Homo sapiens: one gene and its partners. The protein of the gene in region 1 purifies or fractionates together with the protein of each later gene. This does not show direct contact. Each region holds a gene or a part of one and is shown in the gene's direction. Other genes may lie near its edges. The genes, in order: ECT2L, POTEE, MLLT11, PKP2 and CHP1.

What was found.
Region 2: the proteins of ECT2L (region 1) and POTEE purify together in Homo sapiens (affinity purification with mass spectrometry, with the first as the bait; one large-scale study listed by BioGRID). This does not show direct contact.
Region 3: the proteins of ECT2L (region 1) and MLLT11 purify together in Homo sapiens (affinity purification with mass spectrometry; one large-scale study listed by BioGRID and IntAct). This does not show direct contact.
Region 4: the proteins of ECT2L (region 1) and PKP2 purify together in Homo sapiens (affinity purification with mass spectrometry; one large-scale study listed by BioGRID and IntAct). This does not show direct contact.
Region 5: the proteins of ECT2L (region 1) and CHP1 purify together in Homo sapiens (affinity purification with mass spectrometry; one large-scale study listed by BioGRID and IntAct). This does not show direct contact.

The regions. Positions count from the first base shown.
Region 1 is NC_000006.12:138,875,833-138,880,053, forward strand, and holds part of ECT2L (epithelial cell-transforming sequence 2 oncogene-like), read left to right. Parts: intron 1-639; coding exon 640-726; coding exon of another isoform or gene 727-747; exon of another isoform or gene 748-766; intron 767-4,221.
Region 2 is NC_000002.12:131,247,348-131,251,568, forward strand, and holds part of POTEE (POTE ankyrin domain family member E), read left to right. Parts: intron 1-3,430; coding exon 3,431-3,501; intron 3,502-4,221.
Region 3 is NC_000001.11:151,066,561-151,070,605, forward strand, and holds the end of MLLT11 (protein AF1q), read left to right. Parts: intron 1-658; 5' UTR 659-664; coding exon 665-937; 3' UTR 938-2,984; downstream 2,985-4,045. UniProt on the Homo sapiens protein: Cofactor for the transcription factor TCF7. Involved in regulation of lymphoid development by driving multipotent hematopoietic progenitor cells towards a T cell fate.
Region 4 is NC_000012.12:32,792,406-32,795,887, reverse strand, and holds part of PKP2 (plakophilin-2), read left to right. Parts: intron 1-3,156; coding exon 3,157-3,244; intron 3,245-3,395; coding exon 3,396-3,464; coding exon of another isoform or gene 3,465-3,482. UniProt on the Homo sapiens protein: A component of desmosome cell-cell junctions which are required for positive regulation of cellular adhesion.
Region 5 is NC_000015.10:41,255,020-41,259,240, forward strand, and holds part of CHP1 (calcineurin B homologous protein 1), read left to right. Parts: intron 1-1,680; exon of another isoform or gene 1,681-1,791; intron 1,792-1,890; coding exon 1,891-1,971; intron 1,972-4,221. UniProt on the Homo sapiens protein: Calcium-binding protein involved in different processes such as regulation of vesicular trafficking, plasma membrane Na(+)/H(+) exchanger and gene transcription. Involved in the constitutive exocytic membrane traffic.

The DNA.
Region 1 (4,221 bases):
TTACCTGGCCAGACTTGGTGGCTCATGCCTGTAATCCCAGCACTTTGGGAGGCCAAGGCGGGCAGATTACCTGAGGTCAGGAGTTCCAGACCAGCCTGGCCAACATGGTGAAACCCCATCTCTACTAAAAATACAAAAATTAGTGGGGCGTGGTAGTGGGCCCTGTAAGCCTGCTACTCAGGAGGCTGAGGCAGGAGAATCGCTTGAACCTGGGAGGCGGAGGTTGCAGTGAGCCGAGATTGTGCCATTGCACTCCAGCCTGGGCGAGAGTGAGACTCCATCTCAAGAAAAAGAAAAAAAAAAAAAGAAGTCTGTTACCCAGGAATGTGTGTGAGTCTTTAAGCCTGGGAGGAGCCCCAGCCCAGCATCACTTCCCTGGCTCCCAAGGAAGAGGGAGCTACGCTGGATTTAGTTCTCAAGTATTATGTAGTTCAAAAGAAGCAAAGGCTATTTTTAAAAAACATAAAATTGAATGTAAGAGTGGCATCCCATTTGCAAGCACTTAACTCATTGTGTGTAGGGAACACTGTGGTTGGGGCTGAAGGCAGAGGCTTCTGAGGGCCTCCTGCGGGCACAGTACTGAGTTTTCAGAGATGTCAAGACCTGCCTCCAATAACCAAGTTTCCATTCAATCTTCAGGAAAGAAATGTTGTAGAAGACAATTCTTGGGACACAAAGTCCAGGCTCAGCAAAAATGATTTAAATTTTGAAGCACTGATTAATCTGGTAAGCTATTATATAATGTAACTTTACCATTGGTTTTGCTCCTGATAGTGAAATTTCAGCCTTTATTCTGGTTAGTTCTTCATTTTCCTTGAAAATTTCCCTTTGGGGGATTAAAAAAAAAAAACCTCAAAAATTATTAGAGAGAATTCAGCTGGCAGACTTTTTTTTCAAATAAGCCCCAGACTGAAAAGAAGTTGAGCCAGAAGGATAGCAGTGTAACATCTTGGAGCAAAACCAATCTGTATGTTACTCCCTGACTTTCCTTTATGGTACTAGGATGTCTTTTAAAGAAATGGCACATGGACAAAGGCTCACAGTTTCTAATTAATCTACCAACTTACAGTCTGACTTCAAAAGTTGAATCTAATGAACACAATGTCTAGGGCTCCGTCTTTCTGTGTCAAGGGTAAAGTGTGGAGGAAGCTGCAGCCTCAGCAGGGGCCGGTCTCGTCCTGTGTAACCCACGGCATGGGCACACTGTTTTGTTTTCTTCAACACACAAACACACTTATTATCACCTTTCATTCTCAGAATCCTATAAAGGACACATCCCTAGCCACATTTTATAGATAAAGAACTAGAGTTAAGAAAAGTTACATGGGGGAAAAAAGTCAAATGACTTCCCTAAGGCCAGACAATTGGGCAAGAAAAATCTTAAGTCCTGCAGCCCTGAGCTCAGACCTGGGGCTCTTTCCCAGCCCCAGACACCCTGGCTGCAGACAGTGCAGGCCGTGGAGCCCCAGGACATGGATGCCCACTTGCCCCAAACCCATCCCTAGGAACACCCAGGAGGAGCATGTTCCATAGAGCAGTGGATATGAGGGTATCTCATCTGACTATTAGTAATAATACCTCATAGTGGTTTCAAGATAACAACACAAGGTTTGACAATGAAAACCTTAGTTCAAAATGATTATAAATGTTGGATAACTCCAATATGTAAAAATATATACATACAGAAATACACATATAATATTAAAAAAATAATATGGACTGTAAGCCAACTGCCAAGTAGGATGCAGATGTATTTTTTACCTTATTAGATATGTCTAAATAGGTATTCTAGACAGACCATGTGTTTGGAAAATAAACAAGAAGAGTTTGGCAGCTCATGTTTGTAATCCCAGCACTTTCGGAGGCCAAGGCAGGTGCATCGCTTAAGCAGAGGAGTTTGAGACCAGCCTGGGCAACATAGAAAAACCCTGTCTCTACAAAAAAATTACAAAAATTAGCCTGTTGTGGTGGCTACTCTGGTGGCTGAGGCAGGAGGATTGCTTGAGCCCGGGAGGTCGAGGCTGCAGTGAGCCATGAGTGCACTACTGCACTTCAGCCTGGGTGACAGAGGGAGACCCTGTCTCAAAATAAAAAATGTAAAAAAAGAAGAGTGTGTTTATAATATTTCAAATACAGTGAGTTCTCTCATTTTTCTCTTAAGTTTTTTTACATTATAATTCCAGTTAATGAAATTATGGTTAACTCATCTTGGTGAAGATCACATAGCATTACACATTTTTTCATTTTAAACAAGGCACTTATTTAAACAACAAGGTGTTTGACTTGAAGGAAAAACTATCTGGTAATCATTTTTATCAACTAATGGATCCTCACTTAAAGACAGATTGCCCTACATATAAGAGGTATGTACGAAAACGTTATAAAATGTGCCCTTTGTGTTACAATGATAAATGAAAAACATGAGAATTCTCCAATTGAACAAGGTATGCAAGGATTTAGATACATATATATATACACACACACACACACACACACACACATACATATATACATATATTGCTGTTGTTAAAACAATGAGAGCAAGATAACAGATTGGAATATAAAGATAACTGCTGAATGAGCATGCCACGAAGGGAGAAAGGAGGTCCTTTTGTTTTTGTTTTTGTTTTTTGAGATGGAGTCTCGCTCTGTTGCCCAGGCTGGAGTGCGGTGGCATGACCTCGGCTCACTGCAACCTCTGCCTCCCAGGTTCCAGTGATTCTACTGCCTCAGCCTCCTGAGTAGCTGGGATTACAGGCATGTGCTACCACACCCAGCTAATTTTTGTATTTTTAGTAGAGACAGAGTTTTGCCATGTTGGTCAGGCTGGTCTCGAACTCCTGAGCTCAGGTGATCCACCCGCCTCAGCCTCCCAAGGTGCTGGGATTACAGGCATGAGCCACCGCACGTGGCCAAGGAGGTCTTTTCACAGAAGCATTTTTCCCCTTCTCATCTCCATTTGATGTTGATGGTATACCATTAGCCACGAATACATTAGCCATACCATTAGCCACTAATTTTTTTAAAAATGCTTGTGCATATTCATCAGTTACCTTATGTACAATAAAGGAATGGGGAAGGAAATGAAAGAATAGAGCAAACTATACTGTAATAGTTAGGATGTAGTGGAACCAGATTGCAGTTTTTTAGTTGAGAATGCAGTCTTGGTCTGTAAGAATAGCCTCTGGCGTAAAATAGCAAGTTCTCTTTTTACTGGACCCCTCCTGCCTGCTGCTGAAACACATCAATTGTATCTTTAACCTCCACTTCCAACTCTGCAGGTGTGTCTGTTTCATTGATTGGCCATCTGACAAATTGGAATCTGATCCGCCTCATTGACAAGCCTTGCTATTCACAATAGGCTTTCATTAGTTTACTAAGTGGTGTATGCCTGTTAATCTTAAATTGCACCAAGGAACCATCCTGCCCACCACCCTAAAATTAATATGAGCAGTTCTGACCCTTCCTTGAGCTTTCTGTTCACCATGCTGAGTGCTGGAGTCACCTCAGGTCCGCAAGCAGCACAAGTGGCAGAAGCAGTATTGTCATATTTTATTGGGGGCAGTGTGGGGTATACTTAGGGCTGGAGGGAAAATAATAATTCTAGGCTAAAATTGAAGGACATTATGTTTTTGAAATTTAGATATTATAAATTTTCTGGTATAAAGATGCTCATTTTATAGCTTTTGAAATATGCAAATAAAAGAAAAAAATTATCTAGTACCAGCAATAAAAATTAATTTCTCTCTCCATATAAACATAGCACACACAACATCAGGGTATGGAATTTCTTTAGGCCAGTGTATGATTTTCACCTCTGCATTAAAAAATAAAACAAGAGGCTGGGCAAGGTGGCTCATGCCTGTAATCCCAGCACTTTGGGAGGCTGAGGTGGGTGGATCACAAGGTCAAGAGATCGAGAACATTCTGGCCAACATGGTGAAACCCCGTCTCTACCAAAAACACAAAAATTAGCTGGGCATGGTGGCATGCACCTGTAGTCCCAGCTACTCGGGAGGCTGAGGCAGGAGAATTGCTTGAACCCAGGAGGCGGAGGTTGCAGTGAGCTGAGATCACACCACTGCACTCCAGCCTGGAAAAGAGAGTAAGACTCCATATCAAAAGAAAAAAATAAAATAAAATAAATAAATACACAAAACAACAGTTGGAAACATAACATAGCACATCTGGCAACCTGGCTAGCCAGGAGAGATGGGCTCA
Region 2 (4,221 bases), on another chromosome or scaffold:
ACGTCTCCTTTTGTGGTTGGCTAATCTGCAGCAGCTCCAAACATCTTGTTTTCACAACACAACATCGAAAGGGCTGCTTTTCTTCACATGTGTCTTTTAAACAGGGAGAAAACTTAGAAGCATGCAAGGGGCTTCCTGTAACATTTCATTGGCTGGGTCATACCACATGCTCATTCCCAAACCAGGCACTGGGAAGGTAAATATCTGATTAGCTTAGAATAAACATTTCTTTCTGAGGCTGAGGAGGGGGATTGGGATATTAAATATCCCAATAGACTTATGTTTTTTCTGCCAGAAAGAATGAGGAATGGCTATTGATAGGGAGCCAACAATGTGTGCTGGAGGGGGCTCATTGGAGAAATTTGAGCAGGGGAGCCACAAGATTAAATTTGAGTATTAAGGCATTCTGGTTATGGTGTAAAATGGGTTAGCAAGCTTTTTCTTTAAAGGACCAGGTGGGAAATATTTTGGACTATGTGGTCTCTGTCATATCTACTTAACCGTGCTGTTGTCTGCTGTTGTAGTGTGAAAGCCACCATGATTATATGTAAGCAAACAGGCATGACTGAGCTCCTATAAAACTTTATTTACAAAACCATAATGCAGATTGGATTTGGCCTGTGGCCTATAGTTTCCTGGGATTGATGGGAGATAATCATGCAAAGAAACCAGGAGACAAAGGAAGCTTTTGCAGTAGTCAGCTATAGTTTCCATGTCACACATCCTTGGAGTAGCATCAATGTATTACAAGGTTTTCACCCGTCCATGGTGAAATAAATAACGTTAGAAATCTCAGTTACTCATTTTACTATGTTGGCCTTCGTTATGCCCTTTTCACTTGTTTTGCTTAATTTTTTTTCCTGTAAGAAATAACATTAATAGTTGGCAGTTTTCTTTTAAATAGAAGTCATTTTGTAAATGTTTGTGTTCCCAGTGGCAGTGGGAATATAAAACAGAGGCAGAAGAGAGGTATAGTCAATATGATTTAGTGATAATTGAATGAGAAAGGCTTGGGGGACAGAGAGAAATCTCAGATGATGTACAGGTTTCCAGATTGCACACTAGTATTTAACCTGGACATGAGGAAGGAGTAGGAAATTTTCTGGTGAATACAGAAGAGCAAAGAGCAGCAGGTCAGCAGGAATGACTAATGTTTTTCGATGCATGTTTAATGGAATATTCGTGTAGGGTATTTTGAGTAGGTAATTGGATAATCAGCATTTATAACTCGCATCCTACTAGTTTGACTCTAAGTAATAAGACTTGTCAAAGATCCAAGAATCTGAAAGTCAGTAATAAATGTCCATGTGCATCATCGTCCGTGACAGAAAGTCAGCATCCACAGAACACAGAATTGGGACAGATGAACTTAATAGATAAAGATGAATATCGGAGTTGTTCCTCTTAGGGAATGATACTCTCCATGACCTGTGTGAGTCACAGCTGCCAGAAAAGAAAGAGCAAGGAGCGTATGAAGGCAGCACAGCAAATTCGGTCCTAGAGTGCCCTGCTTGGCTTCATGTCATAGTTCTGACTTCTAAATAATCATTTTCTGCAAAATGTGCTTTGTGTTTTTCCCTCTTGCCGCCTGCAGCCAATCAGAATCTTTTTAGCAGGACATAATGAAAAGAAGTAAGAGAAAGAGTGTTTTTTTGTAATGGGATAGTATTTAACGTAAACTTGAGAGTGAGTACCAGGATTATACTTAGAATTTATGGACTGGATGGGAAGACTGGATAGAAATCTAAAGATTGCTGACTCAAACACAATGTGGTTTCTTTGATTTATTTTCACAGCTCTGAATTCACGACTGTTAATTGTATTCATATGCATTATAACTTTACAAAGCATCTTCCGAAACCAAATATTTACTGATTTATTATAATTTGTATGACTTTATTATAGAACTGACTTTCCAAGTGTTCATGAGAATTGTTTAGAATTTGCTACATTGTATCATCTCAGCTGTGTCCACATGAGCTATCTGTCACCTTGTCTTAATGAATAATTGTTCACTAGGAATATTGGTTTTGGCATTGAAATGATCTATATCTAAATGCAGATAGGACCCGGGACCACTTTTGAACATTAATGTTCAAGCATCTTAAAATTACACATAATGCTTTCATAATCTGACTTCTGCCCCACTCTCCATCTTTAGCCCTTTTCCCTGTGTGCCCTGTCTCTGGCATTACTGAACTGCTGGCAGTGCCCTACTCACTCATCCTTCTATTGTAGGCAAATACTTTCACTCTTTCAGGAGTCGCTCCCGCTCTTGCTGCTGCGTGGCATGCCGTCACCCTTTCCTGCCCTCTACACCTTTTAATCTGGCTAGTCTCAATATTTAAGTCTCTGCTTGGGCATGTGTTCTAGAAAAGCCATCTCTGACATGCTTTATTTTAATTCTTTTTAAACCCTAATGCCTAGCATGTATTTAGCAGGACTCAATAAAATATTTCTGAGTAAAACAAAGACTGTTTTTACAAAGATGATGTGCAAGACTCTCCCCTGCAGTCTTGGAGCAGAGGGGACAGACGTGGAGGAATAATGTACAGTTTAGGTGGTCAAGATGCAGTAGAAAAATCAGTAAAGTACTAAGGCAGCCTCAAGGAAGGAGGTACCTGTTTATTTGGGGAAAGACATGCAGAATCAAGGAAAACTTCATATAGCATTGTTTCAAAAGATGAAAATAAGGCCAGGTGTGGTGGCTCACACCTGTAATCCCAGCACTTTCAGAGGGAATCACGAGGTCAGGAGATCGAGACCATCCTGTCCAATGGTGAAACCCCATCTCTACTAAAAATACAAAAATCAGCTGGGTGTGGTGGTGCTTGCCTGTAATCACAGTTACTCAGGAGACTGAAGCAGGAGAATCACTTGAACCAGGGTCGCGGAGGTTGCAGTGAGCTGATCACACCACTGCATTCCAGCCTGGTGACAGAGGAAGACTCTAGCTCATAAAAAAAAAAAAAGAAAAAAGAAAAAAAGAAAATAAATTTGTCAGAATAGTGGAGAGAAACATTTTAGATATTAGGAAGATGTTGTACACTAATAAAGGTGTCAGCAGTGATTTTGGAAATCATTTATAAGGTACTATTAGGAAGTGGAGAACAGTACACTGTGTCACCTTATATGTTTCTACTGTATTTTAAAGCTGTGTTTCTGGTGGTTTTGTTCATGGATGTTGGGTGGATGAATTTGTGAGGGAATTTTTGACATGTTTGTTTGTCTTCAATCTGGTGACATCTGCTATCTCCCCAAGTGGGTTTTTGAAGTTTTTGAGAATTATTTCTTAAATGACAATTTCACAAAAGATGAAACACTCAATTTATGAAATAAAATGAAATGTCTCAAATCTGTTTTTAAAAGGCAATAGTTTTTAACTGTTTTAAGTGGTTGATTTTAACTGAATGTATGGATTTTTCAACAGAACAAGACTTAAAGCTGACATCAGAGGAAGAGTCACAAAGGCTTAAAGGCAGTGAAAATGGCCAGCCAGAGGCATGGAAACTTTTAAATTTAAACTTTTGTTTAATGTTGTGTTTTTTTTGCCTTAATAATATTAGATAGTCCAAATGAAATTACCTTTCAGACTAGGCTTTGAGAATCAGTAGATTGTTTTTTTAAGAATCTTTTGGCCAGGCAAGGTGGCTCACGCCTGTAATCCCAGCACTTTGAGAGGCTGAGGCAGGTGGATCACGAGGTCTGGAGATCGAGACCATCCTGGCTAACATGGTGAAACCCCGTCTCTAGTAAAAATACAAAAACTTAGCTGGGCGTGGTGGTGGGTGCCTGTAGTCCCAGCTACTCGGGAGGCTGAGGCAGGAGAATGGCATGAACCCAGGAGAGGGAGCTTGCAGTGAGCCGACATCCACCACTACACTCCAGCCTGGGTGACAGAGCGAGACTCCATGTGAAAAAAAAAAAAAAAAATTTTAATAGATTCTTAAAATTTATTGTAATAAAATCAGCAACCTTATTAACAGAAGAATCAATAGATTCTAATTTAATATTTGATATTTAACTTCAACATAACCCACTATAAAATTTAAAATACTCTTATTTTAAAATATTCTTATCTGCCTTCTTGATTAGCTTATAGCTAATCTCTCCTTTTGGAATAGAGGCAAAAACAAATTTCAGAACTTTGTTTGTTCTTTTATTTTTACAACACCCTAACATGATAAAGAAAGTAACATCAATGATTGAATCATATTATTA
Region 3 (4,045 bases), on another chromosome or scaffold:
AATCAGACCCAAGATCAATTTGATGCAATAGATGGTAAATAAGTCATTCCAAGATGGGAAGTTTAGAAAATAGTAGAAATTCGGCCGGGCGCGGTGGCTCACACCTGTAATCCCAGCACTTTGGGAGGCCGAAGCAGGCAGATCACGAGGTCAGGAGATCGAGACCATCCTGGCTAACATGGTGAAACCCCGTCTCTACTAAAAAATACAAAACATTGGCCGGGCGTGGTGGTGGGCACCTGTAGTCCCAGATACTCGGGAGGCTGAGGCAGGAGAATGGTGTGAGCCCAGGAGGTGGAGCTTGCAGTGAGCCAAGATCGTGCCACTGCACTCCAGCCTGGGCGACAGAGCAAGACTCCGTCTCATTGAGAGAAAAAAAAAAAAAAAGTAGAAATTCATAATAAAGGGTTTCTGAAGCTTGTCCAAGGGAACTTGGATTCTCTCCAGAGGCAATTGGGGATGGTGAGTTTCTTTTTTTTCCTCCCCAAATTCCTTTTTACTGGTGGGATTGGAGGATATACAATTTTCTTTCTTTAATAGAAAAAAAAAAAAAAAAGAAATTCCTTTTTACCAGTATGTGGAGTATCTAAGCAAGGAAAGGCCATGGGCCACAAAGAAGTTGCTGTAGCATGAAGACTGACAAGTGGTTTCTTTCTAGGAAGCTATGAGGGACCCTGTGAGTAGCCAGTACAGTTCCTTTCTTTTCTGGAGGATGCCCATCCCAGAACTGGATCTGTCGGAGCTGGAAGGCCTGGGTCTGTCAGATACAGCCACCTACAAGGTCAAAGACAGCAGCGTTGGCAAAATGATCGGGCAAGCAACTGCAGCAGACCAGGAGAAAAACCCTGAAGGTGATGGCCTCCTTGAGTACAGCACCTTCAACTTCTGGAGAGCTCCCATTGCCAGCATCCACTCCTTCGAACTGGACTTGCTCTAAGGCCAAGACTTCTCTCTCCCATCACCTTGCCCTCATTGTCTTCCCTCTCAAGCCCCTTCCTTTCCACTCCTTTCCCATTTTAATCTTGTTCTCTCCCTACTGTGTTGGTGGTGCTGATGAATCTGCCAGAGTTGAGTTCTATGTATTTATTTATCTATCTGTCTACTCCATTTCTCTCAAAAGCCCTCAAGTCACAAAGTAAATGGTTCAAGCAATGGAGTACTGGGTCACAGGGATTCCTCCTTTCCCCCCCAAATATTAACTCCAGAAACTAGGCCTGACTGGGGACACCTGAGAGTAGTATAGTAGTGCAAAATGGAAGACTGATTTTTGACTCTATTATAATCAGCTTCAGAGATTCCTTAAACCTTCCTAATTTCCTGCTCCAGGGCAGTAAACACAAATATTTCTTCAAGGGGTGATGAAAACCTCGGAAGTTTTAATTTGAGGTTATCTGCTACGAAACAGTATTTCTAAAAGGCTAAAGTGATAAGTCTCTTGCTTTTTTTTGATCCTGCTCTTATATTCTTTTTTTTCCTCAGAGAAATCAGGAGGGTAGTTAGAGGTATAAAACAGGAGGAAATATTATGGAAAATGAAAATAGGGAAAATAATTGAATCATTTTAGAAGTAGCTAATTTCTTTTCTCAAAAGAGTGTCCCTTCTTCACACCTACTCACTTTACAACTTTGCTCCTAACTGTGGGTTGAAAACTCTAGCTAAAGAAAGTTATCAAATCTTAACATGCATTCCTACTATTATGATAGTTTTTAAGGTTTCAATTCAATCTTCTGAACGGCATAAGTCCTATTTTAGCCTTACCTCCTGCATTTGCAATACGTAATACTGATCAGTGGGCACAGTTCTTCAGCTACATTGAGACCCTGAAATGAACAATTATATTCTGACTCGACATCTTGTCCCCAATCCTTCCAAAAATATTGATGGTGATTTGTGCTACCATTTACTCGTTTATTTAATAAAGACATTCAATCCCAGGACTGGAGTCTAATTTTCTCTCTTCACAAGAAAAGCCACAGAAATCTGAGAAATTAGCCTTGCTTTCACACTTAGCTTATACATCTTTTTTTTCTTTTTTATTTTTGAGACAGGGTCCCACTCTGTCACCCAGGCTGGAGTGCAGTGGCGGGGATCACCGCTCACTGCAACCTCCACCCACCAGGGTCAAGGGATCCTCCCACCTCAGGCTCCCAGGTAGCTGGGATTACAGGCGCCTGCCACCAGGCCTGGTTAATTTTTGTATTTTTCATAGAGACGGGGTTTCACCATGTTGGCCAGGCTGGTCTCTAACTCCTGACCTCAGGTGATCTGCCCGCCTTAGCCTCTCAAAGTGCTGAGATTACAGGCGTGAGCCACTGAGCCCGGCCTCATTTTATCTTTCTATAATAATATTCAACTTAGAGGAAGAATGATTTGAGTAGCATTTAGACATTAGATGGTGAACTTCGCATTGAACAGATAATGAAAGGGCAAAATCAACTTAAAATTAGAAAAGTAGTTAGGGAGACAGGTACAACCACTCTTCTGCTTGCCCACTGACTACCAACATTATATTTCAGGTAATAATTCTCCTAGGTGCCTAAGAAGATAAACGAATTCACTCAAATATGTTATCTGCTTAACTTCTGGTTTTTGTGTGCCTGCTATAGGAAAGCACTGAGCCAAACAGAATGTAAACGGGAATGAGACAAGACTCCAACTCTCAAAAGAGAAACTGTAAATACCAATATGGATAGGACAGAATTGGGCAGTGTACTATAAATAAGGATGACACTATACCCTAAATAAGGATGATCTAGAGAAGTCCCCAGGTGGGAGAAAAAAAGACAAATCCTCCCTCTAGGCCATGAAAAGCCCACATCTAAAGACGGTCCCAGTCTAACGAAGAATGGGGCCAGGAAGGATAAGTAGTGCGTCCTTTTCTATTTTTACTGAGTTTTGAAGGGCCCCTTCAGAGTCCTTCAGCCATGGCAATTGGTGGGTGGAGACAGGGATCAACTGTTTGGTAAATAAAGTGACTAAATGGATTTGCAAACTCATGCTCCATCCTCTTGCAGGCCTCCAAAAAGAAATGACTCAGGCCGGGCGCGGTGGCTCACGCCTGTAATCCCAGCACTTCGGGAGGCCGAGGCGGGCCAATCACTTGAGGTCAGGAGTTCGAGACCAGCCTGGCCAACATGGTAAAATAAAACCCCATCTCTACTAAAAATACAAAAATTAGCCCAGCGTGGTGGCGGACGCCTGTAATCCCAGCTGCTGGGGAGGCTGAGGCAGGACAATCACTTGAACCCGGGAGGCAGAGGTTGCAGCGAACCGAGGTCACGCCACTGCACTTCAGCCTGGGCGACGGACGAAGCGAGACTCCGTCTCAAAAAAAAAAGGCCGCGCGCGGTGGGTCACGCCTGTAATCCCAGCACTTTGGGAGGCCGAGGCGGGTGGATCACGATGTCAGGAGATCGAGACCATCCTAGCTAACACGGTGAAACCCCGTCTCCACTAAAAATACAAAAAAATCTCCGGGCGTGGTGGCGGGCGCCTGCAGTCCCAGCTACTCCGGAGGCTGAGGCAGGAGAATGGCGTGAGCCCGGGAGACGGAGCATGCAGCGAGCCGAGATCGAGCCACTGCACTCCAGCCTGGGCGACAGAGCGAGACTCCGTCTCAAAAAAAAAAAAGAAAGAAAGAAAAGAAATGACTCAGTTATTTGTTTCACTGTTCTCACTGACAGCTTGGCTCTGGGGTCCTTACATTCGGCCTGTAACTGGAAAAATGTGTCCATCAGGCACCAGAACCCAATGCACAAAGCCAGGAACGTCCCAAACAGCTGCAGCCGAGGTTGGGATAAGGAAACGAGGCTTTCCTGTCAAACTAAACCTGGCCGCCCCGGACCCCGAAGAAGCAGCCAAGAGTTAAGACGCAATCTGCATGACTGACGCACGCTCCGAGTCTCCCTCAGCAGTTCGCCAGGTTCTTGGCGCCAACACCAGACCTAGGATCCGTCCCCTGCTGGAACTATTCAGACGCGCAAGATACGTAACCAGCAGTCCTCCGCCCCGTTAAATAGTCCTGCCTAGCATGCCTCGGTGACGC
Region 4 (3,482 bases), on another chromosome or scaffold:
ACAGAGGGTCAGACTCCAGAACTTCTCTTGGTTGTGCATTCCAGCATTGTATTGGCCTAATGAATTAGTTTCCCAAAGCCACAGCTGTGATTTAATAACAGCAGAATGTAGGCAAAGCAGGAGTCCTCTGAATAGGCAAGTGCCCTTTTCCTCACTTCCATCTTAGGAGGGGATGTCACACCAGGTGGTTTAGAAGAAGCAGTGATGGGCTGGGCACAGTGGCTCATGCCTGTAATCCCAGCACTTTGGGAGGCCCAAGCAGATGGATCACTTGAGGTCAGAAGTTCGAGACCAGCCTGGCCGACATGGCAAAACCCTGTCTCTAGTAAAAATACAAAAATTAGCTGGGTGTGGTGGTGCGTGTCTGTAATTCTAGCTACTTGGAAGACTGAGGTTTGAGAATCACTTGAGCCCAGGAGGCAGAGGTTGCAATGAGCCGTGATCGTGCCACTGCACTCCAGCCTGGTTGACAGAGTGAGATTCTGTCTCAAAAAAGAAAAAAAAAAAAAAGCAGCAGCAGCAGTGATGACACAGGAGAAGCAGTCAGGGGGTAGCCTGATGAGAAAGTCTTGCTTTCACAGTTTTTTCTCTGTCTTATCTCTTCCGCATCTTATTCCCTTTTGATAATAGAAGGTCCAATGCATGTCATTCCACATCTGTGTTCCTGTTTTCAACTTTTCCCTATTAAAAAAAAAAAGGAGGAGAATGAAAAACCTTGTATAACCAAATTATTTACTATTAGTTAATTTAGAGTGATGAGATTGGAAAGGGGCATGAAGATTATCTTTTTCTCTTTATACAATTCTGAATTGTTTGACTTATTACAAATAGATATGTTACTTTTGTAAATAACCAAACAAGAAAAGAAATGGCTATGATAGCCTAGTTTTAATGAGTTACAAAGCAGATGACTTCACCTGTACTGAAGAAATGTGTGCTTGGCTGTACAGGGATGTACATGTTACCTCTACTACAGCCCCACCCAATTTAGGCCCCTTCTGCTCTGCAGCCCCACTCTGCAGTGCACACAAGGAAGGAAGACTGCATTTAGAGTCAGATTAAAACAAGCCCTGAGCACTGGCTGGAGTGTCAGTTCCCCAAGAATATTCACCCATCCCCAGAGGCTGGCAGATAGTATTAGAGTTGCTCAGTCTTTGTGGAAAGAGTGAATTACTGTTGCAAAACAGAAATGACTTTTCTTCCAAATAGTCATCCAAACTTCCAAGCAAATCACCGTAAGATAGTATGATGCTCATTATTCGAGTATTCAGACATAACAATTGTTGCACATGGCAATATGCAATTACTTTTGGAAACTTCTGGTAGCTTAGCAAGATAAGGGGTGAGCTACTCTGTTACTTGTTTATTTCCGAGTGTCCACTTGTGAGTCCTCACATGCCCTGTCTCAAAAACAAAAGTTAACAAGGAGCTTCTTGCCAGTGGTGTCTGCTGCTCTTTCCTTACTAGAGTGTTATATATCTGACCTACCGTTTGTGGACTAGCCTGGGAACTAATTATCATTTATAACATTACATCTTTGAATAAAAGAGTACCAAGTATCAAACAACCAACTTATAAACAAATATTATGAATATAACAGCCTTGCAATTTAATAACTTTTTACAGTTTTGAATATTAGAGACCCATCACTTTGATGGATTTATTTGCCCTTCAGTTATTACCAAGTGATTCTGAAAAGTCCAGGGGTTACTAATAAGTGCTGATTTGACTGCTCCTCCCTGCCAGGCTAGTATGGAGGAGAAAGACTTTTCACTCTTGAAGGAACACACCATGCTCTTCTCCGTACATCTTTGCACTCTCTGGTTTTGGTTTTATGTTTACAAATGCCTGTGATATGGGGGGAAAAAGAATCTTTGTTTAAGAAAAAAAATCAGCCATGTGCTAATCAGGTGATAGAAGAGAAAGAGATCTAAGGCGGCACTGATCTAAGCCAGAGGTGGGACATTTAGGATAAAGTTAAAAGCAGAACATGGGCTGGGCACAGTGGCTCACATCTGTAATCCCAGCACTATGAGAGGCCGAGGCAGGCGGATCATGAAGTCAGGAGATCGAGACCACCCTGGCTAACACAGTGAAACCCCATCTCTACTAAAAATACAAAAAATTAGCCTGGCGTGGTGGCATGCGCCTGTAGTCCCAGCTACTTCGGAGGCTGAGGCAGGAGAATCGCTTGAACCTGGGAGACGGAGGTTGCAGTGAGCCGAGATCGCTCCACTGCACTCCAGCCTCAAAAAAAAAAAAAAAAAAAAAAAAGCAGAATATGAAAGACTAAGTACAGTTCAAATGCAGTGGTGACTTTGATTTATAGCAAGAACAAGTTTTCCATTTGCTCTATATGGAAACGTAAAGAGATTTTGAAACTGCTTTAACAAGGGCTGCCACAAGAATTTCTTTTATTGACTTGAAAAATTACTCCTACATTCATGATGTCACAAAATCGTATGTATTTTTCAGTCATGGTTTCATGCATTTTTATTCTATAAACATACATTATAAGTATACAAATATAGATTATATTCTATAAATAATTCAAGGATTTATAACATATCTAAAGATACATTCCTTATAAATATCAGGGATTTTTCTGTATAAATTACTTGTTTGTTTATTATTATTATTATTATTTTGAGATGGAGTCTAGCTTTGTCACCAGGCTGGAGTGCAGTGGCGTGATCTCGGCTCACTGCAACCTCCGCCTCCCGGGTTCAAGTGATTCTCCTGCCTCAGCCTCCCGAGTAGCTGGGATTACAGGCACACACTGCCACGCCCAGCTAGATTTTGTATTTTTAGTACAGACGGGGTTTCACCATGTTGGCCAGGATGGTCTGACCTCGTGATCTACCCACCTCAGCCTCCCAAAAGTGCTGGGATTACAGGCGTGAGCCACCCCACCTGGCCTATAAACTATTTATTTATTAGCACTGTGCTAGTGGTTTAAAAAGAAAACAAAAACAGATATGGTCCCCGCCTTGCAGAGCTTGCTGCCTAATTGTCTGGTCACCGAGTGGCCTGACTTCATGGATGGCTGCTGCGGAGTAGCAGTTGAGGAGCGAAGAGGTCTTACAGAACACCCACAGGCCGCATCCAGAAGCCTCACTCATTCTCCCTGATCTCAGAATGTCCTTTTCTTTTCAGCTATGCCTCCAACAAAGCAAGTAAAGCTGCTTCCGTCCTTCTGTATTCTCTGTGGGCACACACGGAACTGCATCATGCCTACAAGAAGGTAAGAACATGAACAAGGAATGTGTCATAGTTAACAGAGCCAGGTAATAATGGCCCACTTGACTTGACCCTGGGAAGAAATCGCTAAAAAACTGCATTTTCTTGTGTGCCAGTTTTGTTACCTTTCACGTTTCTGTTTGCTTATTCCAAAGGCTCAGTTTAAGAAGACAGATTTTGTCAACAGCCGGACTGCCAAAGCCTACCACTCCCTTAAAGACTGAGGAAAATGACAAAGTATT
Region 5 (4,221 bases), on another chromosome or scaffold:
ATTTTGTCACATACTTCACTGTTTATTTCCTATAGAAAGGACATTCTCAGATCAAAATCAAGAAAGTTGCATTTTGAAACAGTACCATTATGTAATATTCCATATTTTATATGGTCCATGCTTCATTTTCACATATTATCCAATAATGTCCTTATAGCAGTTTTTTTCCTAGTCCGGGATCATGTGTTGGGTTTTGTTGTGTGTCTCTTTAGCCCCCCCTTGATCTGGAACAATCCTCTGCTTTTCTTTGTCCTCCATGACATTGATATTTTTGAAGACTGCAGCACAGATAAGTTGTAGACAGCTTTGTATTCTTGGCCCAGGAACCAACAAAAGAAAGTTTTTAAAAAATACTTATTGAAAAATTGGGGGACTGGGTGCGGTGGCTCACGCCTGTAATCCCAGGACTTTGGGAGGCTGAGGTGGGTGGATCACCTGAGGTCAGGAGTTCAAGACCAGCCTGGCCAATGTGGTAAAACCCCACCTCTACTAAAAATACAAAAATTGGCCGGGCATGGTAGCACCCGCTTGTAATGCTAGCTACTTGGGAGACTGAAGCAGTAGAATCGCTTGAACCCGGGAGGAGGAGGTTGCAGTGAACCCAGAGATCAAGCCACTACACTCCAGCCTGGGAGCGAAACTCCATCTCAAAAAAATAAAAATAAAGAATTTGGGGGAGAGTAACTTTCATTCAAAAGGTTCAATATTAGGGCTGGGCACCGTGGCTCACTCCTGTAATCCCACCCAGCACTTTGGGAGGCCGAGGCCGGCAGATCACCTGAGGTCAGGAGTTCAAGACCAGCCTGGCCAACATGGTGAAACTCCGTCTCTACTAAATGTACAAAAAACTAGCCAGGCGTGGTGGAGAGTGCCTGTAATCCCAGCTACTTGGGAGGCTGAGGCAGGAGAATCGCTTGAACCTGGGAAGTGGAGGTGGCAGTGAGCCAAGACCATGCCATTGCATTCCAGCCTGGGTGACTGAGCAAGACTCTGTCTCAAAAAAAAGTTCAATATAGGAAAGAAATATGGTTTTTAGAAAAAGAACACATACTTTGACTTACAGACTTAGATTTAAATCACAGTTCTGCTACTTAGGAGTAGTGTGGCTTTGGGCAAGTTACTTTATCTTCCTGACTCTCAATTTCCTCAGCTCTAAAAGGGTATACATAAAACATTGGCGTGAAGAAATGAGAATAATGTATGTAAACAGAGCAGCACATGATATATATGTGATGAATGGTAACTGACAATATTCGCTTTGGTATAACCTCGCCTAAGTCATGTGAGGATGACTGCTCTTGTCATGTTTGAGGGTTAAATACTTCTGTAGCCCTAGTCCACAGAACATGGAAATGGAGAAAAAGCCAGAGTCAGAACAAGGAAATCAATTGGTTGTCACATTATTTCCTTGCATGTAAATAGCACCTAAGAATTCCTTGCATTTTGTAAGTGCCTAAAAATCTTAACAAGGATATGGAGACCCCTCTAAGTGTTTGTCCCCATATTCAAGTTCTGCAGTATTTGATACTTTCCATTTGCTGTTCACTTTCCAAACTTAATAACTAGGTACGCAATGCTAATGTTCAAGAAATCATTTACTAAGGGACAGCTTAGTATTTGTCCATCAGTTGGCTTATTGACGTAACCTGTGTGCTAAATTCACTGGAATGTGGCGTAATCAAATCTGGCTCCTTCCACTTCTGAGTTGGTGCAAGAAACACTTGGCAGCTATTAAAGTGCTATTCTTTGCAGTTATTTGGTATAATTTGCCACAGAAGTAAATTCCAGGAGGTAATATTCTTGCTAGGTTACACCCTGTTACCTCCTGACTTAAGGAGTTCATGCTAAGGGCAATGATCTCTATCTAACTCAAGGTGATTCTCTTGGCAGCCGGGAAGATTTCCAGAGGATTCCAGAACTTGCCATCAACCCACTGGGGGACCGGATCATCAATGCCTTCTTTCCAGAGGGGTGAGTCAGTACAGTTGTTGGACTTCCTTCCTGAGGCTATCACAACCTAAATTATTTGCTAATCTGGAATAATGATATTGGTTGTGCCATCTCAGACTGTGATACCCCCTGATTATATTGAGCAATTCTAATTTTGTCATTTCTAGAATATCTCTTCTGTTCTACCCTCCTGTGTGTTTTAAACTTCAAATAGATATATGAGCCTATCTTCAAAATTCTTATGTTTATCATTGATGTAAAACTAGACTTTTAAAAAATGTTTATTTGGAAATAATTTCAAATTTACAAAAAAGTTGCAAAAGTTAAAAGTAATTCGGAGAATACTTGTATATTTATTGCCCTGATGCATCTACTGTTATATTGTTAACATTTTGCCTCATTTGTGTGCTCTCTTCTTAGTAGTAGCCAATAAAAATATAATGCAAGCCACATACGTAATTTTACATTTTCTAGTAACCACATTTAAAAAGTAAAAATAAGTTAACTTTGGTAATATATATTTTATTTAATATATTTAAAATATTATTTCCATATATAATCAATATTAAAAATAACTGAGATCCTTTTTTCGTTTGTTTGTTTGTTTTAAGACAGAGTCTTGCTCGGTCGCTCAGGCTGGAGTACAGTGGTGCCATCTCGGCTCACTGCAACCTCTGCCTCCCGGGTTCAAGCGATTCTCCTGCCTCAGCCTCCGAGATAGTTGGGATTACAGCCACATGCCACCATACCTGGCTAATTTTTGTATTTTTAGTAGAGACAGGGTTTCACCATGTTGGCCAGGCTGGTCTTGAGCTCCTGACCTCAGGTGATCCGCCTGCCTCAGCCTCCCAAAGTACTGGGATTACTGGCGTGAGCCACCATGCCCAGCCTACATTTTTTCATAATAAGTCCTTGAAATCCAGTGTGTAATTTACACTTAAACACATATCAAGTCAGACTGACCATGTTTTCAGTGCACATAACCAGATGTGACAAGTGACTGCAGTATTGAACAGCGCAGCTTGTACACCCGTGCTTACTCTACATACCCTCTCTTGCAGACACTTTTTCCCTCTCTCTTTCCCCTCTCTCTACCTACACATACTCTACGTGTGTGTGTATATACATACATACATGCCTACATGTACGTACATACATACACATACATACATGTATGTATATACACATACTTATGTAATTTTTTTGTGTATGTGTGTTCACATAATTGTATTTCTGAACTATTTCAGGGTAAGTTGCATAGTAATGACCCTTTACCTCTGAATGCACCAGTGTGTGTTTGCTAAGAATAGGGACATTCTTTTACATATCCATAGTATAGTTATCTACTTCAGTAAACTTAACATTGATACAATCCTCTTATCTAATCTATTACTCTGTTTTATTAACATATTATCCAGTTTATTCTAATTTATATTCATATTCCAATTTTGTCATCCAATAATCTGTTTTATAGCACTTCCCCGCCTCCAGTACAGGATCTAGTCTGGGTCAGTTGTCATGTCTCTTTAGCCTCCTTTAATCTGGAACATTTCCCCAGCCTTTATTTTACTTTCGTGATATTGAATAAACATAGTTCTCACCACATATGCTTTGTCAAGTAGATTGTTCTTAATGTGGGTTTTTCTAACATGAAACTAGTCTTTTGATATGCTTTACTACCTAATACACTGCCTTCACAGTAGTGAGTAAATATTTACTGATTTGATTAGGTACCTTTTCAACAATAAAACTTACATATAAGCTTGTTTTAAGTAATTTCCTAAACAATCTATTCCTGGTTTATATGGATAGTCTATGACCCACAGGACTTCAAAATATTATATGGGTGCCAGTTTTTAATAATGAGACTGTCAATGAGGACACTGTCAGATAAAATGCCTGGAGAGGAAATTTTAGAACTCTAAATTGAGAGCAAAGGAATTTGCTAGTTGAGAGGGTTGGGCATTCAGGAAATGTGAGTGAAAGTCAGAAGGGGAATTAGGTCGGGCAGTTAGTTCATGTAAAGATGGGAATCAAATCACGTTGACTATGAGGAATCTTATGCCCTCTTTCATTTTTTCCTTTCTCTCTCCTTGAACTGCCCTGTTTGTTTCAGGTGTGGTTTTTATGCTGAATTCTTCCTTTTTTCTAATTCCTCTTTTACCCCTGCAAAGCATTGAACCCTATCCAGAGATAACTTTCACAGCTATGCTTTGTATCCAAACCTTTTGCAATGAAAAGTAAACCCAGGAGAGTCACTTTGCCAACTTT